Linked DNA regions of Homo sapiens. The protein of the gene in region 5 interacts with the protein of the main gene of each other region in a biochemical or structural test. Each region holds a gene or a part of one and is shown on either strand. Other genes may lie near its edges.

Region 1 (4,232 bases), on a different chromosome or scaffold from region 5:
CGGGCTCAGCGGGACCGTGTTCAGACTCGGGGACCCAAACCCAGCAGTGCAGGGCCTGGCCCTGGGGGCGGGGGCACCACTCACTGCCTGCTTGCACCACGAGCAGCTGATGGCCACAATCTCCTTGCTGTGGAAGGTGAACTTCTGCTGGAATCCCTGAGGGTAGACAGGATGGATGGGAACCAGGGCAGGCGTGGAGCAGCAGACCCAGCCCCTCTCCTGGTGCCAGCCTCTCTCCACCCAGAGACAGGGCCTCGCTATGTTGCCCAGGCTGGTCTCAAACTCCTGGGCTTAAGCAATCTGCCTCAGCCCCCCCAAGTAACTGGGAACAACAGGCATGTGCCACCATGCCCAGCTTTGAACACATTTTTTGTTTTTGTTTGGAGATGGAGTCTCGCTCTTGTTGCCCAGGCTGGAGTGCAGTGGCGTGATCTTGGCTCACTGCAACCTCCACCTTCCAGGTTCAAGCGATTCTCTTGTCTCAGCCTCCTGAGTGGCCGGGATTACAGGCGCCCACCACTACGCCCAGCTAATTTTTTGTATTTTCAGTAGAGACAGGGTTTCACCATGTTAGCCAGGCTGGTCTCGAATTCCTGACCTCAGGTGATCCACCCACCTCAGCCTCCCAAAGTGCTGGGATTACAGGCGTGAGCCACCACACCCAGTCTGAACACATTTTTTAAAATAAAAAAAAATATGTATAAGATAAGCCTGAAGAGCAGGGTGGCTTAGCCCGGGCCCCCTGACTCCCTGAAGTTACCTGCACGGCACCACATGCATACCCGTTCTGCCACACTGCAGGCTAACTCCTGCCTCACTCGGATTTTCCCTCCTTCCTACCCCCGAGGCCTGACCAGACCCCCATGTGCTGTTAAAGAAATTTACTGCCGCTTCCGAGTACCTATCACATTCATTCCCTGTTCATCACACAGGCTGTTATGAAAGGCCTGCAGTGGGCCAGGCGCTGAGAATCAGTGAAGCAAGCCTCTCCATCTTTGAGAGCCTGCACTTACTGAGGGAGGCGGGCAAGAAGCAAACAAGAAAGTGAACCAAACAACTGTGGACTGGGTTAGGCGGTCGCCTGGAAAGCCTGGCTTCAAGCCACACTGTCCTCAGGAGGGTGGGAAACCGCTGCCCAGCTTGGCGCTCGGCACACAAGTATCCATGGAGTCACCGAATGAGTAAGTCTATACGATTCTCCAAAGGGCCACTTGCAGCTTCAAAGCAGGCCAGGTGTGCCACATGGGAAGAAAACTTTCCTCCCTGCTCTCCTACTAAGCCCAGAGACCAAGAGCAGGCCAGGGTGCTTGAGAACTGAAGGCACTGCAGCCAGGCTGAGGGTCAGCCCCGGACTCTGCACACCAGGGTGTGGTCAGTGATCGGCAGGCCACACCGGCCACATGGCCTGGGCTCAGGACCGCAGGTGCAGGTGGCGATGTCCTCGGGCAGGGCCTCTCACCTTCCCACAGTGCCGACACTTGCCGTCCTGGCGTCGTCTGTGTACCCAGTGGTGCCGTACAAAGGTTGGCTGGGGGAGAAGGGGAAAAATTTCACTGGGTGAGGGGTGGGCAGGGGCACAGTCCTGAGGACTGCCCACACGGCTCAACACACGGGGCTGCAGGAAGCGCTCTGCAGTCCTGCGCATGAGTGGAGGAGGGGCTAAAGACTCTCTTCATGGCCTGGGGGAGGCTCAGACTCAGAGGGACAGAGAAGGCTGGGAAGCACCAGGAGGCACAAGCTGTCCCACCCACTCCGCAGGCAGCGCTAGTTAGGCCTCCGCATGGCAGACCTCAGACAGACCTCAGTGAGCAGCAGCCTAGAGGGAGCCGAGCCCCCTGGTGGCACTCCAGAGGCACTGCGCAGAGGCCCATGCAGGAATCTTAGGGTGGCCCCATCCCTGACCACCCTGGGCACTTACCTCGCGGACATTCCTGGAGCCTGATTCACGGAAGGACGGCTTACAGCGGAAATTTATCTGTGAAACATGGCAGTGACCACCAAAATGTCAGAACCTCCCTTCGGGGTCAGGTATGTGGTCACTCCCTCCAGGACAACCCAGAGTCATCCTCACAAGGTGGGGATACCCCCAAATCGTCACGAGAGTCCTTGAAACACGAGACACCTCCTGTGAGAAGCCCTCCTGCCTCTCTGCCTCCTCCTCACTAGCCAGAGGGATCTTTCCTTCTTCCACCCAGGACCCAGGATGAGGGGGAGGTTGGGAGCTTTGGGTCCGTCTCCCCCACTAACATGGGACCATGGTTTGCTCGTTGTTTTTTTTTTGTTTTTGTTTTTTGAGACAGAGTCTCGCTCTGTTGCCCAGGCTGGAGTGCAGTGGTGCGATCTCGGCTCACTGCAACCTCCACCTCCCGAGTAGCTGGGATTACAGGTGTGCATCACCACGCCTGGCTAATTTTTGTGATTTTTAGTAGAGATGGGGTTTCACCATGTTGGCCAGGCTGGTCTCAAACTCCTGACCTCAGGGTGATCCACCTACCTCGGCCTCCCAAAGTGCTGGGATTACAGGCATGAGCCACCGCACTCGGCCGCATCCTTTCTTCCTCGCCCTCTGGCACTCCCGACCCGGGCACACGCAGCCAGCCTGGTCCTCACACGCAGACTTGCACTGCCTGGCCCCTGGAGACCTTTAGCTAATTTGTGGAACCCTAGGTCGATTTCCACCTTAAATGATGAGTGTACAGTGCTTGGGGCTGCATTTCTATTTCCCTTCTCATAACTGTCCCTACTTCAGCCTTATTAGAGGTATAAGGAAGCCTCACTTTACAATTCAGAGGCTGGGGAAAGCAGCCTGTGTGAGCCTGCCTGAACCACTCCTAGTCTTACAGTCTCTCCCGTATGATGGCCTGGGTTTCTGCAGGCTGGGAAGCGCTGCCCCTCCATGCGAACCCTTCTGCCCCTGGCCTTGACCCGTCTGCCCAGTGCTGCCTCCACCTCTAGAAGCACAGTGCCCAGACATGCCCCCAGCTGCAAATGCACAGTGGACAATGGCCCTTGGGGAAAGGTCTCCACAGAGGCAGGGTGTAGCCACAGCTGAGTTATGAAGCTTCAGCAAATCAATGGCCTCTTCTAAGCACTAGTTTGGACATGGTGAAATGGTACAAGGGCCACCATTCGTCAATTCATTCCATTGAGTGATATTCAACGAACCCACTAGGCGCCAGGTTTGTTCCAGGCAGTGGGGATACAGCAGCTAATCAGTGAGGAGCCAGGATTCGAACGCAGGCATTTGGCTCCAGGGTCCTTGACTCTTCACCCCCGAGTGCTGGGTCACTCCTGGCAGGCCGTTTGTATAACATGTGGGTGTGAGTGCGCGCTGAAAGGGCCTCAGCACCCAAAGGGCAGGGGCGGGCAAAGCTGAGCTACCCACCCACCTTCTCCAGCTGCTCGATGCAGGGCGTGTGCACCACAATCTTGCAGGCTGCGCACTTTCTTCGAGACACTGACTTCTGCTGCAGGACAGGAAGAGAGGGCCCCTGAGGCACCAGGTAAGTCTATCTCGGAGGCTGCCTGCCCCAGCACAGCTGCCCTTTGTGTGCACTGGGAAGCCCCAGTCCTGGCATCCGGACAAAGCCCCTGCACCCCTCACCATCCTGGGGCGGCCCACAGCAGGGGTGCCAGGGAGCGGGCTCAATCCCACGTTCCCGGAAGGGCTGCGGCTACTGGCTCCACCAGCAGGGGGCGGCGTGCCCCTACGAGCACTCACCAGCATCCTGGCTACACAGTACTGCTCCCCAACGTAGCAGAAGTCCCCGGACACGTTGGTCTCGAACCAGATGTGCTCCCCATATGTCGCTGACTCCTAGCCACGGGATGGGCTTGCTCAGCACACGCTGGCCGCCCAGCCCTCCCTCCCATCAGCCCCCGCCCACCCGCCCTCTCCCAAGACAAACCCACTCCAGCGCCCCGATCGACCCTGCTCTGTTCCGTCTGCCCCACTGTCCCAACCCTTCCAGGCTTGGCTCTCCCAGCTGCCTTTAGTGCCTCCACCCGCCAGCTGCGCCTTGGCCAAGAGCCCAGAGGGTCTGGGACCCAGGGGTGTTCAGGCACTCACGCTCCAGTCCACTGTACTCCGGATCTGCCGCTCTGACTCGCTGCACGGGGCCCCAGGGGTGGGCGGAGGGGGGGCCAGGTGCTGGAGGCCCGACTTGGTGATGGCTTTCCTAGAGAGGAGAAGACAGCTGAGGAGGGGGCTGAGCACTTGCTGACCCTACTTC
Region 2 (4,232 bases), on a different chromosome or scaffold from region 5:
GGGTCGGAAACTCTGGCAGTTACCAGGGTGCGGTACTGGACTCCATCCCCGACAGAGGGAGACCACACGCCCCCAGCTCCCAGCAGGAGAGTAAGACTGCACTTCTAGGCCTTTCTATCTGTGGGGAGGCTGCCCGCTGCCTGCCCTCACCCCACGCTGGGCCTGCCCTGGCCGGGGTCCCAGGGTACGCAGCACCATGGTGTGTGGTGGGTGGTTGCAGTGCCAGCCCCTCTGAATGGCGAACAAGGAGCCCCATTGTACCACAGGTGGGGGCCCGCCCTCCCCGCTGCCCGCCACGCCCACGGCCACATGGTCCCCTCCCTTGGGCCTCAGGGTGCGGGTCACATGCCGGTCCACCTGGGGTAGGAGCAGCCATCTCCCCCAAGCATGGGGACCAATGCCGGGCCACGCTCTCCACTGAGACCCCTGCAGGGCAGGGACGGGCCCCCAATTTCAGATATGGAAAGTGAAGGAGTGTCTTGGCCCTGGCCCCAGCTCCAAGTCCCGGCCCCTCCCATCCCAGCTGTCTCCCTACGCAGATCATTCAGCCCTCTCCTGGGGCGGGGGCCCTGGGAAGGGACTCCTGGCGCCCGCAGCTCCCTGAAGGGTAGTCTGAGCAGGGCTGGCCCTCGCACGCACGACGGCAGGGCCCTGCATGGGCAGGGTGACTCTGAGGGCACAGGAGGGAGACCCCCAGGTCTGCCACCCACAGCCGAGGGGCTTCTGGGAAGGCTGCCCACCCTCCCTGGGAGGACTGGGCTGCTGCTGGGGACCAGCCGCCTGGGCTTGGGGAAGGAACAGCAGGGGGACTGTGGCTTCTCCCTGCCTCTGTGGGGCAGCCTCACCCACCCTCCGGCGCTACCTCTGGGAGCTGGCTCCAGGTGACCTGGGCGGGCCGGTAGCTCTTGACCACAATGGTGGCGTCCACCTTCTGGGTTCCCTCGGGGCTGGAGGACTCATCGAGGATGTCGTCATCAGACTCCTGGCTGGTGTTCAGGCCCCGCTCCTGGATCTCCTGGTAGAGCTGGGGGTCTAGAGAGAGAAGGAGGGTAACCTGTGGCCCTGGGGGATTGCAAAAGGCTGCGCCTCCCTGCAACCCGCCAGCTGAGTCCTCTAGGCCCACAGGCTCTCACGGCTGTGTGGGAGAGGGAGGCTTTGGGAGGGGACTGCCCCAGGCTGGGCACCAGTCCCAAGACCTCTCCTATGCCACAAGTCCCACCTGAAATGGGCTGGTCCCGGCTCAGGGTGCCTCCAAACCCTCACAGCAGCCCCCAACCAGCCTTACCCTGAGACGTGGGGCATCGCTGCTGCCTCCTGGGGACACTTCCCAGGGATTTCCGTAGAGGAGACCTGGGTACCCCCTCCTGGGCCCATGCCTGTCCACAAAGCTTCTGGGGGCTGGAAGGGGCCATTGTGTCTTGGAGCCTCAGGCCTGGAGCTGGGCACTCGAGGCCTTAGCCCTCCCCGGGCTTCATTGCCTCTAATCTCTTTACACCCCCGGGCATTTGGACCCAGGTAGCAGGCACCTCCCTATGTCAACCTCCCTGTGGGATGTTCTCATCTCCCCCGAGCAGGCTGAGTGTGCACCACCGCCACCCATGCTGGAGGCCCCAACACATGGCTCCCCTTCAGCCTCGAAGAGTCCGGGCAGAGCCCGCGGTGTGGGGCCGGTGCCCTCTGATCTGGCCTTGGTCCCCCAACACGGCCACTGTAGGCTGGGCCCAGCACACACATGGGGTGTTCAGGGCAAGACTGGGGGCTCTGTCTGTACCCTGCCCTTCAGAACACACAGAATAGAGTCCAAGGGAACTTTCTAGACCTTTCTAGACTCATCAGGGCTACATGAACAGACCAGCCACTGGGACCTCAGCCTCTGGAAGGACCCTGTCAAGCAGCTTTGGTGACCCCGAGACACCAAACTGAGGCCCACCCGAACCCCAGGGTGCCCCAGTGAGACCAGTTTCAACTGGAGCCCAGCCCGCGGTGCCTCCCGAAGCCACACTCACCGTCCTTGAAGGAACCCTTGTGCCCACGTTTCCTCCCCAGCGTCTTCTGCACAAAAGAGAGACACAGAAACCGCAGCTGTCAGCCGGGGCAGGTGTTGCCCACGGCGATTCTGCCCTGGGACCCCAGAGACCTCTCGGCTCCACATGCGAAGCTGTGCCCAATAGATGTCAGCTCCACAGGGCCTCACGGCCGCCAAGCAGAGGCCAAGAGAGGTGGGAGGAGGGCTCAGAGCAGGCAGGACACGTGACTGAGGGCTGCTTGGAGGAGGAGGAAGGGTTGAACTCATCGTGAGGGGACGCTCAGAAGAGTTTCGAGCAGGCCCGTGGCAGGGCAGGTGAGGTTGGGAGAGGGCTGTGAAGGGACAGTGGGGCAGGACACAGGCCCCTGGGGACTAGGACCTGGTGGGACAGACGAGCAAGGATTGGCCAGTGTCCAGCCCCAAGCATGGGTCTGGGGGCCCCAGCAGGAGGCCGGGATGGCAGAAGTGACGGGAGGGCTGGGCTCCTGGGAAGCCCCCACGCTCAGGTGCCCGACTCGGAGCCCACCCTCCTCGGCTGGGACACCACACTTTCCTGACGCCACAGGTATGCTGGTTCCCGGAAGGAAAGGGGCTGATTTCTCGGAACGAGTTGGGGCCTGTAAACTCCCCTTACTGGTTGGGAGTGTGTGGTGCTCCCAGCTGTACCTGGCCTGGCACCCTCAGCCCCGTGCCCCGCACCCCACCTCAAGGACTCCCCCAGCCCCCCTTCGGCCTCCAGGTCTGGCTGGAGCTGTTGCCTCCCCCACCCCGACTCCGTCCTCTCCTCCTGTCTGCCTCTGCGCTAACCCTCCTTCCTCCGGGACCCTACCCTGACCCGAGGCCATGGGGAGCCCCCTCCTCTGTGCTCCCAGCACCCCCGAGCTGCCCTCAGCCCAGCCCTCGGCATTCTCCCTGCGCTGGAGGCCCTCTGAGAACCAGGCCCATGCCCGTGGGCTCACTTTGGAACCCCAGCACCAAGCATGTGGCAGGTGCCCAGAAGTGTCTGCTGACTGCATGAAATAAACAGTGAATGAATGAACGGAGCCCCATGGGCCTGGGCCTGGTGGGTGTAGAGAGTGCTGGGGCCCTTCCAGCTGCTGGGGTGCAGGGGCCTGCGGCAGAGGTGCTGAGGCATTTCTGAGTCCTGGGCGTCTCAGGTAGGCACAAGAGAGAGCTGTGACCGAGGACAGTGGCTGGTGCTGGGGACATGGGGGACCCCACCTCAGCCACCATCGGCCTGCAGTGGACGCCCATGGGACATTCTGACAGGTGGTCTTGGCGTCTCCTGAGGCTGGCACTGCCACTCCCAGTCTGGGCAGGAGCTGGGCCTGAGGAGGCAGCTGGGACGGCAACCAGTGAAGAAGACGCTCTGGCACACACCTTCCGTGGACACTGCCCAGAGGATGCCCAGAGGGCGGCTGTGATCTTTGCTTCCACATGGGGAAGCCAAGGCTCAGGAAGGTTCAGGAACTCATCTGGGTCACACAGCACCTGCCCCCGCCCTCGTCCTTCACTGAGGCAGCCCATATGCTTGGGGCCTGTTTTCCAACACGTCTGAGCAAGGCGCCCAACAAGAAGGACGCCCCTGGGGCCAGCCCTGCATCTGCTCTGCATTCTTGAGGGTGCTCGGGCTGCCAGGGCCTCCTGATGGGCGGTTCCAGGGCAGCTCGCCTCCCCTACCCCAGCCCTGCCTGAGCCCAGACCCACCAGCTAAAGAGACCAAGCAGGGTGGCCAGAGTCGCAGTCCTGGCTGGGTGGGTGTCCAGGTACCACGCAACTCTCCCTGAACGTGGCTTCCAGCTCCAGGGCTGCCTGAAATGAAGGCCTGGCCCCCAGCCGCAGGGGATGGTGACTCCGAGGATGAGGGACACTGGGCCCAGGAGCCCCAGCTGGACGCTCTGTCCCCTGGGCCCTAGTGACACATGCAGTCAGGCTACACCCTGCCCAGCAAAGGGTCTGCCGCCACCATGCCCCAGACCTAGAGCCACCACCAGCAGGCAGGGAAGCAGGGCTCTGTGTACAGAGGGAATGTGCAGACTTCTCCTAAGCCCCAGGCCACCGCACAGCTGCCCCGCTTCAGTCCCTCCCGCCTGAGTCCCTGTCTGGAGCTGCCGGGGCAGATGGAGCCCAGGCCAGTCACTGCAGCCAGGTCACCCTGAACCCTATCATCCAGGCAGGCCGGCTCCTGTCCAGAGCTCGGAAACAG
Region 3 (4,232 bases), on a different chromosome or scaffold from region 5:
TCTATTTACTTAGTTTCCAATTGTGTGTCAAGCTGGAGTCAGACTAAGTGTGACCTGTCATATTTTCCAGGTGTTCTTGTGTGCCTTGTCTTTTGTTTACTTTGCCAAAGCATTGGCAGAAGGCTATCTGAAGAGCACCATCACTCAGATAGAGAGAAGGTTTGATATCCCTTCTTCACTGGTGGGAGTTATTGATGGTAGTTTTGAAATTGGTAGGTATTACAGATGCCTGACTTTAATTTTAAGCCCAAGATCTTCTAGGTGTGGCTAAAGAACACCTTCTGCATTCTATTGTCTGCTGGGATCAGACTCTATTCATAAAATCTTTTTTTTTTTTTTTGGACAGAATTTACCATGATCTTATTCTACAGGAGAGGCAATTTTCTCAGAGCAATCAACAGTAAATTTTTCTCCCCAGGTGTTTGGTATTGTATGGTTCACACAATTCAGAGTTCTACATCAGAGTAAGTGACTTTCTTGGAGGAAAGGGTGAGATGCTAATTGGTATTTTGAGTTATAAATATGTAGAAGTATCTTTACAGAAGAACAATACACCCTGGGAGCACTATGATTCAATTTTAGAGGTGTGGAATAATCCAAATGCGCTCTACAAGAATTTACTGCAATGATGAATAGAAGTTACATCATAAAAGGGATTTTTCCACCCAGTGGTCTAGAAAGAAGAATAAAGGGATTCTATTACCAAGAACACAAGATCAGAGCAGGCAATAAAAATTCAAATCTCAGGTGCCTTTGGTTAGCAATTGACTACAGACTCCTTAGAAATTAAAAAGATCGAGTAATTTGAGTCACTGTTTTAGAAGTAATTTAAAGAGGATAATCCTAGTTAGTCTGCTTCCTGAATTGATAAACTAAAAGGCTTTAATTTTTTGCTGAAGTAAACGAAATAGTACCCTCTCTGGTCCTTAAGGCTTGTTTAGATTCAGATATACACCATAGTAAAACCTCTAACTGCTCCAATTTTAGCTTTACCTGGTGAACTTTCAGAAAAGTGAATAAATATTTTTCAACTCTTTAACAATTTATTTCTTTTCATACATACTATGTGTTTTGGTTCTTACTCTGAATATCACAGAAAAAATAAAATGAATAAGTAACCTTTTGCCTTCAGGCATTTGCTTCCCAAATTCATCTTTTGTCATCCTTCCAGAATGACATTTCTTAGTGCCAAATTTTAATGTCCACACAAATAACTGGGCAATCTTTTAAAAATCTTTTTTTAAAACCTGAATTGGTAGGAACAGGATAAAATTCTGCATTTCTAATAAGCTCCTAAATGATACTGATGCTTCTAGTCAGTAGATCACATTTTGTGTAGCAGGTTTCCAAAACATCTGATCACATCAATCTTTTATGTAATTTGCTTAGATTGGCCCGGATGGTTGATTTATTCCTTGAGCCCTGTTCTACTGATGGCCCTGCACTGAGTGAAGGGCCAAAGAGAATCAAGGTAAAGGGTGATACATTATATCATGAGAGAAAAACAAGGAGAAAGAGGTAACTGGTGCAGATAAAAGAATAGAGCAGATATGAGCAGGCAAAACATTATATATCATGATGTTTTGATGTTTTTCTCACTCTAGATTATTATATAAAAATATTTTAGAGCTGAAGAGGCATAGAAATGATTTGGTCCAAAGTTTTGTTTGGGCTCCCAGGTCCTGATGCAACTTGAGAGACAAAGTTTATATTTGATAGAGAGAGTATACTAAGTTTTCACAGGAAGTAGCAGAAAACCATGACTCCAAATTCACATTAATTCTTCCAGACCATTCTAGGTATATAAATTATTTATTGGATTGGATGCCTTAAAATGGCTTAAAAGTTCTCTTACTTCCATTGAAAACCTTTATCCCAAACATCACAGGTTTGCCCTAATTATTTGAGTTACATAAATTTCCAGACAAATGACTTCGCTGAACATAATCTTAATTTACTTCTTTTGCCTCTTTTTGCATTCCTTCTTTTCAAGATTCTAGAACAAATATCATCCTCCGTCTTTATGTTATTTGTATGTGGCAACTTTGTTGAAATTCTATTAGTTTTAATTGATTTTCCATGGAAACTGTAGAGTTTTGTGGACAAATTGTCTAAAACAAAATATAATTTCGTATCTTTCTTTGCAACTCTTAGATTTTTGTTGTTGTTGTTGATATTACCTTATTACATTAGCCTCAGAACTGTGTTGAAGAGAAGCATTTACAATGGACATCTTTCTCTTGTGTTTGACCTTGATGCAAATACTTTTAAAATTTTAGTATTAAGCAATATGCTTGCTTTGTGGTTTTGATAGATACACTTTAAAAGCTGGTTTGCTCAGATTTGTTTTTTCCTAACATAAATCAATGGTTAATTTTATTTAGTACTTTTACAGTGTCTATTAAGTTAACCATGGAATTATTCCCCTTCCATTTGTTATATAGGGATTTAATTAATAATTTATTGTTAGTTGGTGGTACTCTTGTACTACTATAATGAACTGCGCTTGGTTGGGATATTTTTATTTGTATATACTATTCCGTTTGCTAATAATTTGTTTAGGATTTTTACATCTATCTTCATAATCAAGTTTGGGCTCTAATTGTCTTTTCTTATATTGTCCTTGTCCAGTTTTGGTTTTAAGAAAATAGTAGTCTTACAAGATGAATTGAGTAGCTTTCTTTTTTTTCTGTTATCTCGAGTGTGTCTGTGTGTGTGTGTGTGTGTGTGTGTGTGTGTGCATAGACAGACAGAAAAAGAGAGGAGAGCAAGAATATGTTACTTTAAAGTTTGGTAAGACATATTTCTAAAACTTTCTGTACCTGTTTTTTTGTGAGAGGCTAATGATGGTAGATATGGAATAATTTTTATATCCAATTTCATTTTTTAAAGATTTTGTATCATCATTTATATTTCAAATGTATCTCCTGACAACTCAGAAAGGATACTAAGGAAGCAAAAACTTTGATAGATACAGTATATATATGGTATATAGATATATATATATATCTGTATTACAGGTACTGAACTCATATTGTCTTGTATATGACATGCCCATTAACGTAACACAGAAATAGCTTGTAAACAGAAGTGTTTATTGTGTGGTATTGGTGGAGTGTAGGCGAGAATAGGAGAGAATTACCTATAAAGTGAATGTCAACTTTCATTTTATGTTGGTTCGTTTATTGTGGTACATTAACAAACATATAGATAGAATTATCAAAATAATATGATACACAATGTCTTCTACTAAATACTTAAATTTCAAATGAGACATCTTGTGCTAAATTATTCGTTTTTTAATATGAACATTAAGAAGAGCTTAATTCTTCTTGGAGCCATAAAGACTAGGACCACTGTGCAAGTCATGTTTCTCACTATCATTCTTATTATCCTCAAGCCCACAAAAATTACTGCTTTATTTCCAGTTTACTAAAGCTGGCAATGTGCGTGAACAGTAGTAAATTAGATGATTGCTTACAGATGTAGGGAAACATGCTTTGCTCAAAAATTGGAAATGAGGAGAACTTCAAAGCAAGGCCACCCATTAGCCATCACAATCAATTGCTGGGAAATTGTTAAGATCTTACTGTATTTAGCATGGTACATCTTAAAAACTAAATATCTCAAATAAATATAGCTAAAGCTTTAAAGCCCCTTGAAGTCTAAAACCCTAAACAATGTTTATCAAAGCATGTTCTAGGAATCATCTCCATCAACACACTTGAGTTAGTATTACAAATGCAGATTTCTTGGCCTGACCTCAGATCCATGGAATCAGAAACGTTTGGTACTTGCCAAGAATCGCATTTTTAACAAGTTTTCATTTCCTTAACCGTTTCCTGTCAGTATTTTTACGCACAGCAAAGCGTGAGAAATATTACTTGAAACATGTTTAATCACTTATCACCATCATCAACTAAAAGTAACGTGTCACATGCTTCATTAGAGACATTTTAGAAAACCATAATTTCTACTTTCAAAAAAACCCAATATTTTTAAACCATTTTTCACAAAAGAGATAAATGGGCACATTTTATAGAGATTTTGTATTTCATAAAATTTGCTTTATAGGCATATGTTGAGGTTATATAATTGATGTACACCTGAAGTCGCCTATGTGGAATAATTTTTATTTCTATTTTGAGTCTTAATCTTTTTGTACAAAGTTTATTAACAAATCATAAAGTATCATTTGTGTACATGTGTTTCATCATTTTATTTCATTTAAA
Region 4 (4,684 bases), on a different chromosome or scaffold from region 5:
GGTGATGATGAAGTTTTCCTTTAAGTTAACATCCTTATTACTTAAATAGGAGACACTTCATGTTCTACTCCTGAAAGCAGTGGTATTAGTTAAGTTTGGTTGTTGAGATTATGTTATGAAAGTGATGAAATCACTATAATTTATCATTTTAAACATACAAATTAATTTTTGCAACAGAATAACTCTCTAACTGTAATGTGAAAGGAAAATATTCAGAATTCCTTTCTCAGAGGTTTTGTTTTCAAATGGCCTATACTTGAATATTTTAAAAATCTAAGCTTTTATATGAAGCCCATGTAACTCTAGTAACCGTGAATTCCCCACCTACATTGCAATCAATGAATCTATATAAGCAAATGGACTGTCAGCATTGGGTTTCTATCTCAGTTAAAAGTAAAGGATCCTTCTTATTTTAGGAAATTAAAACAAGAATCAGGTATAGAACTTTTAATTACATGCTTAAAAGACTTGTTACATACATGTTACACTATTTTGAATATAACTGGAAAAGTTAATTTTTTCGTAATCATTGCTGGGTCTCTCTGTGTCACTCTTTTCTCTCTTTCTCTCTCTCTCTGATTGACCACAACATTTAATAGTTTATAATAAAATGTTATACACGTGAGAAATAGTAGAATAAATGTAAATTCAACACAATATTCTAATGTATAGATATAAAGTTGTTATCTATCTATCTATCTATCTAAACAGATTTTAACTAGAAAGACTTCCACCCAGTTACGGTTAAGTAGATTAATCTCAAATCAATTTCAAATATGGTTAAATAAATTTATCTCAATTGGGGCTACTATTCTTTATTTAGACATATGTCTATCAATAAATATAAAGGCAAATAACTTTGTTTAAGGATGTATAACAATATGGAAATTCAGCATAAAAGCATATTTCCTCTTTGAAAAATCTTTAATGAATATTGGAACCCTAACTTATTCTAATTCAATTTGATTCCTTTATAAGTTTTTAGCTAAACTGTACTAAACACAATCAGACCCCAGAGGGAAATAACATAGTAAACTTCAGTTAGGTTGGGTTTAGAATTCTATCCACAATTCTCCAGTCAATATCTAATTGTAAGCACACTGAAGAATTTCAACTCTGCAATTTGAAAAAAGAATCCATTAAAACACCAATGATATTAAGTTAGAGTATACTGCAAACTCTTTGACTGCTTTATTTAATAAAATAACAAGATAAAAATGAAGTCAATGGAAATTACTAGTCATAGACACTAAGTTGGTCCCCTCAAGAAAATTAGCAACATTAATAACTAACAACATTGACAAAAGTGCCCTTTAAGTGAAACTTCATAAAATAAAGCCACTTTCCTGTAATTTAAGCTTAAGAGGTAGAGACTGACAAAATACAAGTATTATTCCTTCATGTCTCTTGTCCATCAACACAAATTAAAAACAGCACTTCAATACAAACAATTCAATATGTGCTGAAATATAAAGACATGGATTATATGGTCTAAATTGATGAAAGTTATTCAAAAGCAGTCTCCTTTATAAAACCCAAATGGCATGAATTCCACAATATGAGATTGTGTGTAACTCTCTTACTCTAAAATTCTATTTTCTTTTTAGGAATAACAGATTAATGTAAATGTGAATTTTTCAAAAGAAAACTGATTGAGTAGCAAATATGTCTGAATTTGCCACCACATACTCTATCTGAAAAATGGAAAGAAGCCAGGTCATTTCGTTGCTACCCAGAGAGATGATCCTAGCACACCTGTCACCTGCTTGCCTGTCCTGGATCCAGTCTCCGGGAACCAGTTCAATTCCAGCATCCTAATACACACTGTCTGGTCTCCCTAGTTCAGCTTGCCCTCCCTGATAACGGCCCCTTTGGCAGAGCAGCTTATTCTTAATGCTAACAGTAGGTATCACTTACAGAACACTTGCTGACTGTTCAGTTCCCATCAAAGAAAGCCTTATGTGGCAGATCCTTTGATGATGCTTGTTTTACAGACAAACGTTTGGGGCTTAGGTTAAGAAACTTGAGAGGGGGCAAACTAATAAGTGGCAAAGCCGAGCTTTGAACCTACCACTCTTCTGCTTCAGAATTCATATCCTTAACTCATGCACTCCCATTTAATTATTTATGTTTATTATTTCATTGTTTGGTGAGCGCTTATATTGAAAATTCATTTTTTTTTTGGTGGGGGGCATGCTTTCTGTCACTTTGCAGAAACAAATAAAAGTTGAGCTGAACCCTCAATTAAGTTCTTTCCAGTGCGATGATTCAACACAATATTCTAACCATAAGGATACTCAGAGGAAGGAGTATGCCATCCAGAAGTCTAGTATCTTTGTAAGGCACGATTTTTGCCAGGCACAATTACAGGTGAAGGGCTCATTGAACTAAAGGGAGGAGGGGTCCTATGGTCACATTTACCTCCAAGCCCTTCTCTGCACCCTTTCCCTCCCTTCTTTCCCCTCTCTCCCTCCCACCCTACAAGCTTACCTTGGTTAGGAAAGCATATTCTGAGAAAATCAAAAGGAAAAGGCATGTGTGCGATTCAGGCTGCTATGACACACACACACTTAACTTTGTTGCCTATGGATTCTGCTTTCTAATAACTTGCCCTCAACATGACCCCAGGGAGTGGATTAGAAAGTTTTTTTCCCCATCCCCATTTTTTACCTGTTATTCACACTGTGAGCAGGAGGACCCTTTTCACCATCGTTGTTCGGCTGAACTTGCTTCGCGGTTTGTTCTCGGCTGGGTCAGGAACTCTGGTAGAGGGAAACCAGTGCCCTGTCTCTGCCGGGCTGGGACTCCGCGAGTCACTCACCTGTAGGGGAGGTCCGAGGCCCGCGCGGGCGCAGGGGCGGCGCCTGTCTCCTCCCAGAGCATGGCTCAGCTGGGCGCTTGCAGTGCCCCCGACGCGATCAGCGATCCTGGAGCCCCAGGAGCTGTTAATTATTTCTCCTTTTCGCCACAGCAGGGAAGTGTCAAGAAACCTGAGCCACTCCCTGTGCCTCAGTGCATGTTGGGAGTGTTTACTTTCTTAGGAACAGCTGATAGGTACACTCCTTTGCTCTCTGCCACACTTCTTGAGAAATGAATGGACATTCTAGTTAACGCTTTAACCACGGGATTTGACTGATGTTAATCTCTATTCTCTAGTCCACCCAGACTGTAGGTAATTGGCCTGTGAGAAATGACACCAACCAAGACTGAACGCCATTATTCACGTCTTTCTTTTTAAGATTTTTCTTTTCCAATTTGAGATTTGTTAACTTTCTTTTCCTTGTTATTTTGCTAACACATTTCCCTGCTAGCACTTTTTTTCACCCAGAGCAGCGTTTCGCGCTTCAGGGTGCACCAGGACCACCTATGTATTCTGCTAAACCCAGGTACCATCAACTGTGAGACTCTGATTTAGTAGGCCATGCATACACTTCGGGTATTTATATTTTTTATAAGCTCCACAGAAGAAACTGGTAGACATCAAAGTTTGAAAATGAACATAATGAAACAAAACAGAGGAGATAAATAATAATTTAGTCATTATCTACTGAATTGGATTTGGGGGCTTTGTTTTATCCAATATCTCCAATTTCAAAAGGACACCAAAAAGGCTTAGAAACTGTTAAATGACAGATGCTGTGGAAATATGAAGTACATTTACACACACACACACACACACACACACACAGATTTTTAAGGATCATTGTTATTTTACTGGTTTCCTATGTAAAGCAACTATTCATAATTTTTAAACATAATAGGTTATTTTACAAGTGTAAACCTGAGAGCCCTCAAAAGAAATTCAATCTGATTCCTGCAAAAAGTTCAGCAGGCAGAGTTAATTTCTAGTATCTTTCGTGTTCAAACGCCAGACAAACAGAATGACTCTAGATGTTCAGGTTGCATGTTTGTCATAGCACTTTAAGTAAGATCCTATATGTTCAAAAGGTGAGGCAGGCCAGGTGCAGTGACTCACGCCTGTAATCTCAGCACTTTGGGAGACCAAGGCTGGTGGATCACTTGAGCCCAGGAGTTCAAGACCAGCCTGGACAACATGGCAAAACCCTGTCTCTGCAAAAAAAAAAAAAAAAATTAGCCCGGCATTGTGGGGCATGCCTATAGTCCCAGCTACTCGGGAGGCTGAGGTGGGAGGATCACTTGAGCCTGGGAAGTCGAGGCTGCAGAGAGCCAAGATTGCACCACTGCACTCCAGCCTGATTCAAAAAAAAAAAAGAAAAAATATTAGGCAGTTTATCTATTTAATCTGTGGTGTGCGGAGACCAGGAACTATCAGATTTATCATTATTTGAGCAAATGGTTTTATTGGATCACAATCAAAGATTTTACAATCTTATGTAAGGACAGATGTGACTTAGTATTACTTGCAGATATTAATTCGATCATCATGTTGGCTCCATAACTCTCTGGTATGTGGCTGCTGGTATGGACTGACCTTTGAATGATGACTAGCAGGACCTAGAGTAGTTACAGCTCTCGGTTCCAGGATATCTTGCTCAAATCCATGCTCCACCTCCATTGTCTGTGCTTGAAGTGGGTCATTTGCTTATTGTCAGCATCAGGGCAACATTCTTTTGCATCTTTTACCTGCAAGCATTGGATTTGGGGGCTTTGTTTTTTGCCAATATCTCCAATTTCAAAAGGACTCCAAAAAGGCTTAGAAACT
Region 5 (4,034 bases):
TGACTACTTGTTCCTGTGCCCTCTTGTTTTAGGCCTCGTTTACTTTTAAAAAATGAAATTGTTCATTGCTGGGAGAAGAATGTTGTAATTTTTACTTATTAAAGTCAACTTGTTAAGTTTTTTATGTATTCCTGTTGGGTTTTCTTGTTGATCTCATGCTAGCAGAGCAAAAATTGTAAAATATTTTGATTAAAAATCTAGGGACCTTTATGTCCTATTTGAAATGTGATGCTTTTATGTTTGTTTTCTGGTTTTTACATTTTTGTTCTGTATCTTACACAATCCACCTTGGGCCCTGTCATCTGATGTGAGATCAAGTACTCAGAGGCAGTGATTACCACAAAACCACTGATCTCTAGAAGAACAGAGAAGGAGAGGGTTAATGTATTTATACATAGTGGGCCTGGCAGGAGCGGGGGGCAGGGTGAGTCGGGAGAACGAAGCTGAGGGTGGGGACATGCAGGAATCTGAAGGCCTTGGTGACAGATTAGTGGAAGAAAGGTCTAGGGTTGCTTCCGATTTGGTATTAAGAACCAAGAAAGAGGCCGGGTGCAATGGCTCACACCTATAATCCCAGTGCTTTGGGAGGCTGAGGCGGGCAGATCACCCGAGGTCAGGAGTCTGAGACCAGCCTGGGCCAACATGGCAAAACCCATCTCTACTACAAATACAAAAATTAGCCAGGTGTGGTGGCGTGTGCCTGTAATCCCAGCTACTCGGGAGGCTGAGGCAGGAGAATCCCCTGGAACCTGGGAGGTGGAGGTTGCAGTGAGCCGAGATCCTGCCACTGCACTCCAGCCTGGCAAAACAGACTGTCTCAAAAAAAAAAAAAAAAAAAAAAAAAAAAAAGCGCTCTTGGATGCAGCGAGGCGAGGCCCTGAGCTGTAGCCATATCATGAGCCAGGCATGCAGGGTGGGCCCCAGCCCTGGCTCAGCGACCGGCCTCCACTGTACCACGGGACCCCAGGCTTGGATTTTCTCTCGTTCTAAATATGTGCCCACAATGAGCGCTCCACTAGCTACAACAACCTTAAGGGTGTTTTTCTACATGGGCACTAGCCAGTAGAGCCCTGCAGTGGGGGCAGAGAATGGGGACTCTTCCAGGGCACCAGTGTTTATCATCTGAACACAAGAGAGGCATCTTGTGTTAATGCTGTTGTCCAGGAGCTTAAGTGAAATGGGCCACATTTCTTTTTGTGTGGAAACCCAGAGTTACAAGGTCATTGGCATTTCAACACAGCATTTTTATTGCTTTTGAAGGTTTCCCTAGAGCAGACATCATTCTATTGCACAGATGTGTCATTTTGGCATTATAGAAAGTTGCAGTTAAAAACGCTTTCTCCAAAATAAAAAGACAAATGAAATACCCAGCATATACAGTTGAAGGCAAAGGAGGGCAGGCTTTAGAGGGATGGGGTCCATTGCTTTTGCTGTGCATCACCCTTGATTAGCAGTTACATTTTGGTAGTACTTCTTACCCCCAATTTCTAGAAATCCTTTTCAAATCCAGATCAGTGGGGCCCCATCTATCAGGAGAATCAACCCTTCAGGAGCCTGAGCAAGAAGACTGAACCTTACTGGCTGAATTAGGATAGCTGCAGAGAGCTGGAAGCTGACACAAAACTAGTTGGAGCAGCCCTGTTTGTCTTAAAGCAAGGCGGGTGGAATTCCAAATGCTGGAGAGGGGCATACAGTGGGTTCCCCCATTCTACAAGCTTAGTAAACCCAGGAGACAGGCACCCACTGTGGAGAACTGCACGCTTGGTCGAAGGCTTCTTGTAATTTCTTAAGGGTTTCATCAACACCATTATTGACCAGTGAGAGGTCAAAGTAGTGAGCGTACTGGCTGCGGATGGCCTCAGAGTCCTTCTGCAGCTGCTGCAGGGCTTCTGTCTGCAAAGAAGAAAGCCACAGATGAAGCAAGCTGCACCACCCCCAGCCCAGAGAGGCCAGTGACAGATTTTAAACAGCAATTGTTAGCGTTGCTCAGCTGTGCATCATACTTGACGAGTCAAATTCAGAAGACATTGTGAAAGAATGTTAATGTAGGGCATGAAGAGGCAATCTCAAAAGACCATGGCAATTCTCAGAGGATCTCAAGCTAACCCTGACTAATCAGAGTCCTCTGGAGGACCAATAGCTATGCAGAGACAGCATGGACTTCACCAGCATCTCCCACTTAATGCCCTTTGAACATGGAAGAGCCATTTCAACAACCACCAGAGCTGCAATCCTAAAACGAAGATAAAGGTGATTTTGTTGTTTTGTTTTGTTTTGAGACAGTGTCTTGCTCTGTGGCCCAGGCTGGAGTGCAGTGGCACAATCTCGGCTCACTGCAACCTCCGCCTCCCGGGTTCAAGCAATTCTCGTGTCTCAGCCTCCCGAGTAGCTGGGATTACAGGCATGCGCCACCACATCTGGCTAATTTTTGTATTTTTAGTAGAGACAGGGTTTTGCCATGTTGGCCAGGCTGGTCTGGAACTTTAGACCTCAGGTGATCCGCCCGCCTCGGCCTCTCAAAGTGCTGGGATTACAGGTGTGAGCCACTGCACCCAGTCAGATAAAGGTGACTTCTAATCCCAGATCACACCTGTAATCCCAGCACTTTGGAAGGCCAAGGCAGGATGATTGCTTGAGCACAGGAGTTCAAGACCAGCCTGGCAACACAGTGAGACCCCATTTCTACAAAAAACAAAATTTAAAAATGTGTGTGTATATATATCTCAGGACTCTGTCTTTGACCTAAAACCAAGCAGCCATGAAAGACAAATCATGTAACTACATAAAAGTAAAAATGTCTGCATAGCAAAAAGACATGCCAAATTGGAAAAAAATTGCAGCTGATATTACAAAGGGCTAATTACCCTAATATAGACTTCCTATAAATCAAAGGTCAATAACTCAGCAGAAAAATGAGCTAAGGGTATGACCAGATAATTCTCAGAAAAGGCAATACAAATTGCTCTTCATATGAAAAAGTACCTGATCATCTCTTTTAGTAAAAAAGAAATATGAGATACTATTTTTCCCTCCAGTAGACTGGCAAAAAAAGAAAATTTTGACAACATGCTGCAGGCAAAGAGAAACAAGCAGTCTCACAGGTGGTTGGCGGTCCCTGTCCAAATTCTAAGTGTGTGTGCTCTTGGACCCAGTGATCCTACTTGGAGTTTTTCCTACAGATATATTTGCACACATGTGCTATATGCACAGGGCTATTGACTGCAGTATTACACATGCATGCAGCAGAAGACCAAGCAGCTATAGAGAAAAAGAGTTCCTCACACCCTGATAGGGAAAGGTGTCCATTGTTCAATGCAAAAGCACAGTGCAGCAAAGTGCATGGGTAGGGCTGGGCAGAGGAGCAGGGTAGGCTTTTTGATATATTCCTGGCCTCTCTGTCTTTCCCCACAGCCATACTGCACCCCAGGGCGGGTTCAGTGCCACCTCTGTCCATCACAGCTTCCCCTGCCAGAGCCTGCATCCCACCAGTATCAGGATCTGCTCAACTGTCCATCTCTGCCCCTGGAACTGTGTGCCTCCAGGACGATGACTGGGTCTGGTTTGTTTTGTCCCTGTTAGGTAGCATGGGCACTGGCCTAGCTAGTGGCTTAAGAGCTGGAACGAATGTGCATACCCTTTGGCTTCTTGGCCCTGGAGGAAGAAGCCCAGCTGGAGCTGTGACCTCCAGCCAGCACTCTGGCCAATGACCTGGACTGAGGTCCCAGTATGGGCAGGCCCGGAGAAAGTGAACTACCCATCGCGCACAACCTCTCCTCACCTGAGTGCCCTGGTCAGTAGGTGCAATGAACACAATGAAAGGCGAAAGTTCTGCTGTCCGAACAATTTTCAGGGTCTAGAAAAAAAAAAGAAGGGCGGCGGGGAGGGGGGGGAAGGAAGAAAAGGAAAGTGAAAAAAAAAAACCTACATAGCTGTCATAATGGATTCCTTCTAATAAGCAGCTTTGAGCTTTACCCCAATACAACTTTCCATCATTCCCAGTACTACTGTTCTTGTTCCAGGCTGACCCCATTAAA
Region 6 (4,232 bases), on a different chromosome or scaffold from region 5:
GCCAAAGACCATAAAACTCCTAAGTGACAGAGCCAGGATTCTGCCAGCTGTCTGGTTGCCCAGTGGAGTCTCTGTCCATCTTGTCACCAGCCCCCGCACTGTGTACAGGAATGGAATCAGCATTCATTGCTATAAACTGCAGTAAGGTAAGTGAACATTCATAAAAGTTGGCCTGTAGTTTAGTATTTAAACTGGAAAAATAAAAAAAGGCAAGACAACCAGATTCAGCCTTCAAGGATCTTACCATCCAGTTCTTTTATCACATTAAAAAATAACAGCCTGATTCTTTATACACATTTCTAGATGCTTTAAATTTTTAAAATAGTGAGCTGTTTAGTGAAATCAGAAAATAATTTTTAAAAATCTAAATATGTTCATCCTAAATTTGGCCTGGTTCCTTACAGCTGCAGAAATTCATTTTCACCCCATTCCCCATCCCCCTTCCTGAAGCCCTAAAGCACACACCCAGTGGGAGTCCCCTCTGTTTCCCAAAGGAAATATTTCATTCATATAATGTCTCCTTTGTAATCAACACTGAGAAATGTCACTTTGATTAAACACAACTCTGAATGACTAAGACCACAGTACAATAAATTCTCCAGAGCTATCTTTCAGAACAACTGATTGCTCTCCAGTCTTAATCCTCCAGAGTCTTATTTAATCAAAATGATGTTGCTAATTAAGGATTAAAACCTCCGAATAGAATAAAAAAGAAGGATTTTTCTTTCTCCTTTGGGCAGGTCAAGGAGGCAGAATTTGCTGCAAGGAAGTAAAGAGTCCCTTCTACCTTTGGTAAGACTGCATTGTTCTCTGACATTAGGACTTAATCCAAAATAGGGCTGAGTGCTTTGTAATATTAATATAATTGGAGAAAGAAAAAAGGGGAGCAAGAGAAAGAAAAAGAAAGAAAGAGAAAAGAGGAACTGCCTCGGATAGCTACATATGCCTATACATACACATATAGACACTATTTACTCTAAAAATGGACAATGTAGCTCACATCTGTTTGACATCCACTGATAGATAACAAAGAATAACAAAGAAGTTTTATACTAAATTCTTAACTACCCTCCCTTAAGATCCATATATTAATTTGTTTTCTTGAATTTGTATTTGGTAATATAAATTGTTTCCTTAAAAAACACAAAAACCGACGAACTCCATAAGAACTCGTTGGGAGAGACAAAGATTCACAGGAAGGCTGTTTGATTTTCATGGAATATAAACTCTTTTAGGTGTTGGGAGCGAACTGGGTGAGAAACAGAGATGCTGGGTGATGCTTTAACAAATTGCAAAATACTTCTTTCATCTTTGCATCTTCTCTCTGCATTGGCCTAGAAATTTATAATCTCTGCCAAATTAGTCTATTACAATACAGACATACTAACAGCTACCATTTTTTGATCACTTACTATGTGCCAAGTTCTTTGCCAGCAATACACATGGTGTTACCTCTAATAAAACCGGAGAAGAGGAGGTATTATCCCCCTTCAGAAATGAATAAACTGAGGTAGAGAATAAATGACTAGGTCAAGGTCAGTCAGCCTGTGTTAAGCAGAGTCCAGACTTCCACCCAGGTCTCTTTGGTTCCAAAGCCACATTCTATTCTGCAGGACAAGGCACTTCAAATCTTTTTACCTGGAGGATAAATGTGTCCGCGTGTGTTGGGAAGGTGCTGGTGAGTTGTACTGGTCTGCATGAGACTTAGAAGCTCCTGTGATTACTGACTGAATCATCATCACAGATTCATCACATCATCACTTAGCCCAATTCATCACAAAGACTGAGCAACTACTACCCAAATGGAATCAGAAAGTAAACAGTGAGAATGGTCATAAGCCTCTTTTCTCTCCTAGCCAGTGCTACTTACCAGTTAAAAAAAGACATCGTTTTTTGTGATCCATACTCCTGAAGGCCAAAAGCACCCAGTGGACAGACGATGGCTCTTACGCCTCCAATGCCAAGGCAAATGGTCAGCAGTGCTACATAAAACAGCCTGTGCTGCTCTGTTTTTGGTATGTTGTTAACTGCATGGTAAGTGCCCAGATAGAAATCTTCCAAGGGAAAAGCCACCACAGATAACAAAGCAGTGCCTGTAGGTGGAGAAAAAAAAAGAGTAAATGTAGCATAGAACAAGTGGATCACCAAATCACATTTTAAACAGGGTTTTTCTCTGACAGTGGCATCATTTTGTGATTGTCTTATCCAAACATTTATGGTAGTCATTGCAATTTCAGGGATAGCCTGATGTTTTCCAATTGTAAAAATTTCCTTCAATATGTGTCTCAACTAATCCGGAGTTTTAGGTTTTTTTTTTTCTCCTCAAGCTTGAACTATGTTTTCTCTCAGAATGTATGAGCAAATCATGTTTATTTTGCCAAAATTAAAATAACTCAGGAAAGCATTGTATAAAAAATGAAGCTGTTAGTATTCCCACCCCCAGAGAAAACCACTGTTAATAAAGGTTATTTGTTCTTAATCAATCGAGTGACAGAAAACACCATGATCTCACACATCTCAGAAGCTTATTACCTAAAAGCTTTTAAGAAGAACATTATCAGAGTTAGAGGAGAACACAGCCTTTTTTTTTTTCTTTCCTACTTCTGTTTCTCCTTGTAATGTCTTTCTTATTTCTCTTATTTCTCACACAGCTGGATGGAGCCTTCTTTGCCACAAACAGAGTTGAGAAAGCTGGGGACAGAGGAGTGTGAGTGGAAGGAGAGGGGACCTAAAGTGACAAAAGAAGGTCGAGTATCCTTCTCTCTTCCACCTTGCAGGGACCACACTTGATGACTTTCCTTGTCTAATAAAAATAACTATACAATTCCATGCTTTTGCTAAGCTCTTTATATTTTGCCAAGCATGCTCATGGACTATATTGTTTCATCTTGGAAAAACTTTGTGATGTGAGTGGATAGATTTTCTTATTCAATTTTTTTTTAAAGAAATAAGTTCAGTGAGATTAAGTGGCTTGCCCAATGTTATAAAGTAACCCAGTTGTAATCTCCCTCTTCTTGGACCTCCTACCATCAAGTAGTCAAATAAATTTTTTTTTTTTTTTGGAAATAGCATTCCCCCCCATCAGATTACAAAAGTAATACATTCTTACTTCAGAAAATTTGAAAAATAGAGGAAAGCACTCAGAATAATACAAAAGGCCCATAATCTCATTACTCAGAGATCATCTTTACATATATAATTTTACTTTTATAAAATAAAATATTTTAAAAATATTTATATTTTACTTAAAAATATTTTACTTATATATAAATATATTTTATAAATGTATTTTACTTAAATAAATTGAGGTTACACTGTTGAGTTTTTAATGTAACCAAATAATATGAACAATTTTTAAAATACCTTTATACTTTTCCAACATGATTTCTAGTGATGATGTGATATTCTAATCATAATGTGTTTTAAAATACCTTTTCAGTTATTTTTAAATGAATACTGTAAAATACCCTGACACATAAGTTTTGTGCACATCTTTATTAGCCTAAGTTCTCAGTCAAAGGCATTCCTATTTTTATTGCTTCTTAATACCACTGGCAAATGTTCTTTAACAATGCAACAAGTTAATCTCCTACCATCATTGTATGAGAAGATCTTCATTCATACTAGTTAGCATCATTAATTTTTTTGTTTTGATGATTCGATTAGTGAAAAATGGCTCCTCCATGTTCGTTTTGCTCTTCATTTTATTAATTTGGCATTAATGTTATTTGGTATAAATTTTTATACAGTTATTTCATGTGATTTGTTTTCTCAATTAGATTATAAATTCCTTACAGATAAAAATTTGGTCTAATGCTTCCATCTCCCCTACAGAGGCTTTCACAATGTAAAGACTATATGCCCTTAATAGCTATTTGGCAACAGATTCATTTACCATGAGGTGAGCCCTTTAAATTATTGAGTTTGAAATGTTCCCTTTTAAGGTTAGCCAGATATGAAACTAACTGCTCTCTTTCTACCACTTAGTCTTCTCTTCTGTAGGTGTGACGTGAGGCCTGGCTAGACAAAGGGATGTCCAAAGAGGAGGGACAGGACAACTATTTCATGCAGGAACTATTAGGAACAAGGCACTTTTAGTTTGAATGATATATTTGTGTAACTTAGGCACTTTACTTCCATCTTTTGAGAAAATGTCATAATAGGCTGATTGTGTTAAATCAAAACTTTATCCCTATCTGTTGTAAAATGATGCAGTAAAGAGACAAAACAAT
Region 7 (4,232 bases), on a different chromosome or scaffold from region 5:
TACCTGCATGTTAAAGACTTCATCAGAGCTTTCTGATTGCCCTGTAATATTGCTTACTTCAGCAGAAGCTTGTGAGGACAGTGAGGAGGAAGAATATCGGTTGACAGCTGGGTAACTTAACGGGCTGTTTCAGGGGGAAAAAAAAGGTCATTAACTCAGTCTCCAAATTGTACTTTATCATGTGCTAGAATGCTATGAAACCAAAGGGGGGAAAATACATTCCGTTTTGTTTTCTCCTGTTTGCCTCAATATAATCAAATGTTTGAGTTTATTTATTTCTCATGCTGTTGCTGTTTTACTGGTGGCAGAGGTCTGCAGCTGCCTCGCGGGTTAGTTATTTCATTAAGAAATAGCGTATTTGACAAATTGTGCCATAAAGAATGAGAGAACCATTCCAGATCAGCTTGCGGGTGAGGCCAAATTGTAAGATAATTTGGAATATGACTTACCTGCGTCTAGGAATTACCCTGGTACCATCTGGGCTCACAGAAGCAGGTGCTGAGTTTCTACACACACGAGGGCTTCCATTAGGAAAATGGACAGGACTGGCTTGCATACAAGCAGAGAACTCCTAAAGATGTAGTAAAGGAAATATCTCATTACAGTAATGATTTGGGCAAAATAACTTATGAGACAGGTTAGCATACTAGGCACACATCCTAATTGCCATCAAGTCTTCACATAGGGAGCTATTAAAGCAAGTTCCAGTATTATTTGGCTTTCCCTCACTTACATTTGTGTTTTCCCAAAAGGAAAGCCTCGCAAATAGCAGACAAGGCAATTGTATTTGAGGGCTCCCTGGTAAAACAGTGCAGTTTGGTAGAAAAACCACAAGATGTCACTATTGGATACATCATCATCCCTTTAACAAGCAAACGGCAGTGATCAGGCTGCCCCGCCATGGACACCTAAGTATACATACCTGTATCCCTAAGCTCGACTTCATCACAAAGAATTGGTCAACCAGCTTTTTGTGAAGGGGTCTCATATCTTGAGGTACAAACTTCTCATGCACGGCCAAACCAAATTCCAGAATCTGTGCCTTAATTCACAACATAAGGAAAAAACCTCACATCAATGACTACCTCTCACTAAGTGCCTGCTATGGGCCGAGCACTTTACTACGCATTTCGCTTGCATTATTGCTAATCCTCTGCCTCTGACAAGGTAGGAACAGCTGTCACTTTACAGGTGAAGAAAAACTGAGGATCTGAAAAATCCTGCATGGATAAAAGACAAATGGGGATTAGAACTTGGTTCTGATTTCAGACTTAATTTTCCTACTCCCCCAGGCTTCTTTCCCATGTATTTTAGATCTATAATTATAATGCCTCGTAACAGTTATGTGTCCTTTTGGCCCCTTCCTTCTCTCCCCAGGGTGGAGAAGGAATAGGGGCATGTGCTGCTCACTGTTAAGAGGGCCGGCAATTCTCCCTTAAAGATCTCTTCTTTGCATGGCACCCTCTCCCCCCACATTTCCCTCTCCCACTAGGTTCCTCTGTGCTCATCCATCCCTCCCACAGACTTTCAGAATCTGCCAGGGAGGATGGAAAAAACAAAACAAAAAGGAATTCTATGACAGTTTCCATGCTTCTTGTTTTTGTTTAAAAAGATTATTCCTGGCCAGGCGCGGTGGCTCACGCCTGTAATCCCAGCACTTTGGGAGGCCAAGGCGGGTTGATCACAAGGTCAGGAGTTCAAGACCAGCCTGGACAACACAGTGAAACGCTGTCTCTACTAAAAATACAAAAATTAGCCAGGTGTGGTGGCACGTGCCTGTAGTTCCAACTACTCGAGTGGCTGAGGCAGGAGGATTGCTTGAATCCGGGAGGTGGAGGTTGTAGTGAGCCAAGATCATGCCACTGCATTTCAGCCTAGGTGACAGAGCTAGACTCTGTCTCCAAAAAGAAAAAAAAAAGAAAAAAGAAAAAAATCCCAAAAAACATTATTCATATTCACTTATAATTCAACGAGAGAGCAGGTCCTACTTAAAAAACTTTCCTGCAGTGAGGATCCGAAGAGATGAAGGTAAACATTCAACCTTCCTTTGTGCAACCATCAACAGTGTGTGATTCCTTTGATTCGAGCAGCAGCTGTCTTTTGTATTTTAAAAATGCCCCCCATGCTAACATGGTCAAAAGGACAAATTCCATAGACTGGGAGGAAAACGAATCCTATATCACCACAAGGTTTTGTTGTTATTGTTGCTATTTTTAATCTTTGCAGCTCGTGAAGATTTTAGGTTGAAAGCTCAGGTCAAACAGGACTGACCCTGGCGGGTTGGGGCATCCAGCACCTTCCCTAAGGGACGGGGCTCTGGATGCTGCCCACTGCCAGCATATTTGCATAACAAATATCAAGGATGCCTTTGAAAGGCACACTTGGAGTGCAGTGTGTATGAGGCATAAAGGGAGAGGCTACATCTGTGATGAGGACATGGAAGGGATGTAGGAGGTGGATCTAAACGCAGAGGCCCCCAGTCTTCTCCATTTTAAACACTAGCGTTGGGTGACTTCCCTTTTGTTCACAGAATGTTGCAAGTTGGGTTCTCTGGGAAGTAGACTCCAGCATGGATTTCATAATGTTTATCAGGGTGTACCTTGGGATTGATGCCTGTCAGGGGGAGGGACAGAAGCCGGACTTGACAAGAAAAGAAGTTGAGCTGCACAGCAGTCCTGTCAGCTACTGCCAAACCCAAGGGACCTCTGGAATGTTCTTAAAAATTTATCTGTATTTTAATCTTTTTAGAGACAGAGTCTCACTCTGCTGCCCAGGAAGGAATGCAGTGGTGTGATCATAGCTCACTGCAACCTCGAACTCCTGGGCTAAGGTGATCCTCCCACCTCAGCCTCCCAAGTAGCTGGGCCTACAGGCATGCACCACCACACCCAGCTAGTTTTTAGGTTTTTGTAGAGATGGGGTCTTGCTATGTTGCCCAGGCTAGTCTTGAACTCCTGGTGTCAGATGATACTCCTACCTCAACCTCTGGACCTTTAATGGTCTGTCAAAGTTGTCCTGTGTTGGTCCCAAATGGCCAGGCTTTCTATTGCTTCCTCAGTATGGGATGTGCACCACTGAGAAGGTAGCAACCTTGGGCCAAGTGGCTCTCTGCAGTGGAGGCAATCCCTGAAGGGCCTGACAGCTGGAGATGTCTGTTGAGAGCCACATTTCCTGCAGCTGAGGCAGAGTAAGTCTGTCCTGGAAGGAGCACTGGGGTGGTGCATGTCTCTGTCCTCTAGAGAGTTTATCTGAACTACTTTGCAGAGGTCCAGAGAAGGATGGTGCCCTCTCCAGTCCACCTCCCCACAGAGATGATGAGACTTGGCCAAGGGCACATTGACAGTCACGTGCACTGCTTGTCTTATAACAGAGATCTCACATTTTCTAGGCCATGGCTCTTTCCACAAGGTTTCAGGAACATAAGCAGGACGTAGAAGAAATAAAGGTTCCCTGGTTTTATTTTTCTTGGCAGTCTTCTTGACCCTGAGCTACCATTTAATTCTGGGGAAATAATTCAGTCAGGCTGAATCCAGCAGATACAGTCCTGGGGTGGAGTGAACCATTCATAAGAGGTAAAACACAGATCTTTAAAAATCAATGAAGGTTAAAGTCATTGCATAATCCTAAGTAATGGATGACCTCAACTGCTCACTTCTAGTATCTACAAACACCCAGAGTCACATTGAGAACTTGACTTATTCTTTATTTCCTTACAGATCAGCTTCAAGTAATTCTTCTCTCTCTTCTGTGGCCACCTCTCTCCCTGTAGTATTAGGTTTTGTGGACTAAGCCTACAGAGCATAAAAGATGGATGAAAACCAGACACGACCTCATTTTCTAATCCAAAGAGCATGCTTTACTTATTAATTTGGCATTATTGGGTAGAAAGAAATGCCTTTGTCATGTTTCATCACACATATTCCACTTTTCACAGGAAGCAAATGTCTTTATTTCCTGTTTAACACAGGCTTCCAACCATGTCTCCTACCTCAGAGGTTTTCAAACCATTTCAGGCTATCAATAGGGACACAGTAGGCAACAGATTACTCATTCCAGTTCTTTGTACTTGATGGTTCCAAATAAATAAACCACGCTTCTCTGGGGGTAGAAAATGATGAGTTGTATGTAGTTTTGTCCATATCATGTAACCTATAGGTTTACTTTGCAAAATATGACACTGCTTTAAAGCAAGATCTACTGATTGCCCACTTCCTTATTACAATGCTTAAGTA

Evidence for each region.
Region 1: the proteins of MPP1 (region 5) and DGKZ interact in a test that uses a peptide from one of them, tested with the Homo sapiens proteins (one large-scale study listed by IntAct).
Region 2: the proteins of MPP1 (region 5) and ARHGEF16 interact in a test that uses a peptide from one of them, tested with the Homo sapiens proteins (one large-scale study listed by IntAct).
Region 3: the proteins of MPP1 (region 5) and SLCO1C1 interact in a test that uses a peptide from one of them, tested with the Homo sapiens proteins (one large-scale study listed by IntAct).
Region 4: the proteins of MPP1 (region 5) and RASSF6 interact in a test that uses a peptide from one of them, tested with the Homo sapiens proteins (one large-scale study listed by IntAct).
Region 6: the proteins of MPP1 (region 5) and SLC15A5 interact in a test that uses a peptide from one of them, tested with the Homo sapiens proteins (one large-scale study listed by IntAct).
Region 7: the proteins of MPP1 (region 5) and DOCK4 interact in a test that uses a peptide from one of them, tested with the Homo sapiens proteins (one large-scale study listed by IntAct).

The regions. Positions count from the first base shown.
Region 1 is NC_000011.10:46,367,237-46,371,468, reverse strand, and holds part of DGKZ (diacylglycerol kinase zeta), read right to left. Parts: intron 4,179-4,232; coding exon 4,070-4,178; intron 3,818-4,069; coding exon 3,722-3,817; intron 3,468-3,721; coding exon of another isoform or gene 3,465-3,467; coding exon 3,390-3,464; intron 1,976-3,389; coding exon 1,919-1,975; intron 1,529-1,918; coding exon 1,460-1,528; intron 157-1,459; coding exon 85-156; intron 1-84. UniProt on the Homo sapiens protein: Diacylglycerol kinase that converts diacylglycerol/DAG into phosphatidic acid/phosphatidate/PA and regulates the respective levels of these two bioactive lipids.
Region 2 is NC_000001.11:3,463,968-3,468,199, reverse strand, and holds part of ARHGEF16 (rho guanine nucleotide exchange factor 16), read right to left. Parts: intron 2,053-4,232; coding exon 2,007-2,052; intron 1,399-2,006; exon of another isoform or gene 1,286-1,398; intron 1,033-1,285; coding exon 863-1,032; exon of another isoform or gene 850-862; intron 1-849. UniProt on the Homo sapiens protein: Guanyl-nucleotide exchange factor of the RHOG GTPase stimulating the exchange of RHOG-associated GDP for GTP. May play a role in chemotactic cell migration by mediating the activation of RAC1 by EPHA2.
Region 3 is NC_000012.12:20,701,248-20,705,479, forward strand, and holds part of SLCO1C1 (solute carrier organic anion transporter family member 1C1), read left to right. Parts: intron 1-70; coding exon 71-212; intron 213-4,232. UniProt on the Homo sapiens protein: Mediates the Na(+)-independent high affinity transport of organic anions such as the thyroid hormones L-thyroxine (T4), L-thyroxine sulfate (T4S), and 3,3',5'-triiodo-L-thyronine (reverse T3, rT3) at the plasma membrane.
Region 4 is NC_000004.12:73,617,618-73,622,301, forward strand, and holds the start of RASSF6 (ras association domain-containing protein 6), read right to left. Parts: upstream 2,820-4,684; 5' UTR 2,671-2,819; intron 1-2,670.
Region 5 is NC_000023.11:154,777,461-154,781,494, forward strand, and holds the end of MPP1 (55 kDa erythrocyte membrane protein), read right to left. Parts: intron 3,854-4,034; coding exon 3,779-3,853; intron 1,894-3,778; coding exon 1,717-1,893; 3' UTR 1,224-1,716; downstream 1-1,223. UniProt on the Homo sapiens protein: Essential regulator of neutrophil polarity. Regulates neutrophil polarization by regulating AKT1 phosphorylation through a mechanism that is independent of PIK3CG activity.
Region 6 is NC_000012.12:16,270,691-16,274,922, forward strand, and holds part of SLC15A5 (solute carrier family 15 member 5), read right to left. Parts: exon of another isoform or gene 3,835-4,232; intron 2,747-3,834; exon of another isoform or gene 2,652-2,746; intron 2,094-2,651; coding exon 1,871-2,093; exon of another isoform or gene 1,857-1,870; intron 793-1,856; exon of another isoform or gene 1-792. UniProt on the Homo sapiens protein: Proton oligopeptide cotransporter.
Region 7 is NC_000007.14:111,741,091-111,745,322, forward strand, and holds part of DOCK4 (dedicator of cytokinesis protein 4), read right to left. Parts: intron 1,043-4,232; coding exon 923-1,042; intron 572-922; coding exon 450-571; intron 125-449; coding exon 4-124; intron 1-3. UniProt on the Homo sapiens protein: Functions as a guanine nucleotide exchange factor (GEF) that promotes the exchange of GDP to GTP, converting inactive GDP-bound small GTPases into their active GTP-bound form. Involved in regulation of adherens junction between cells.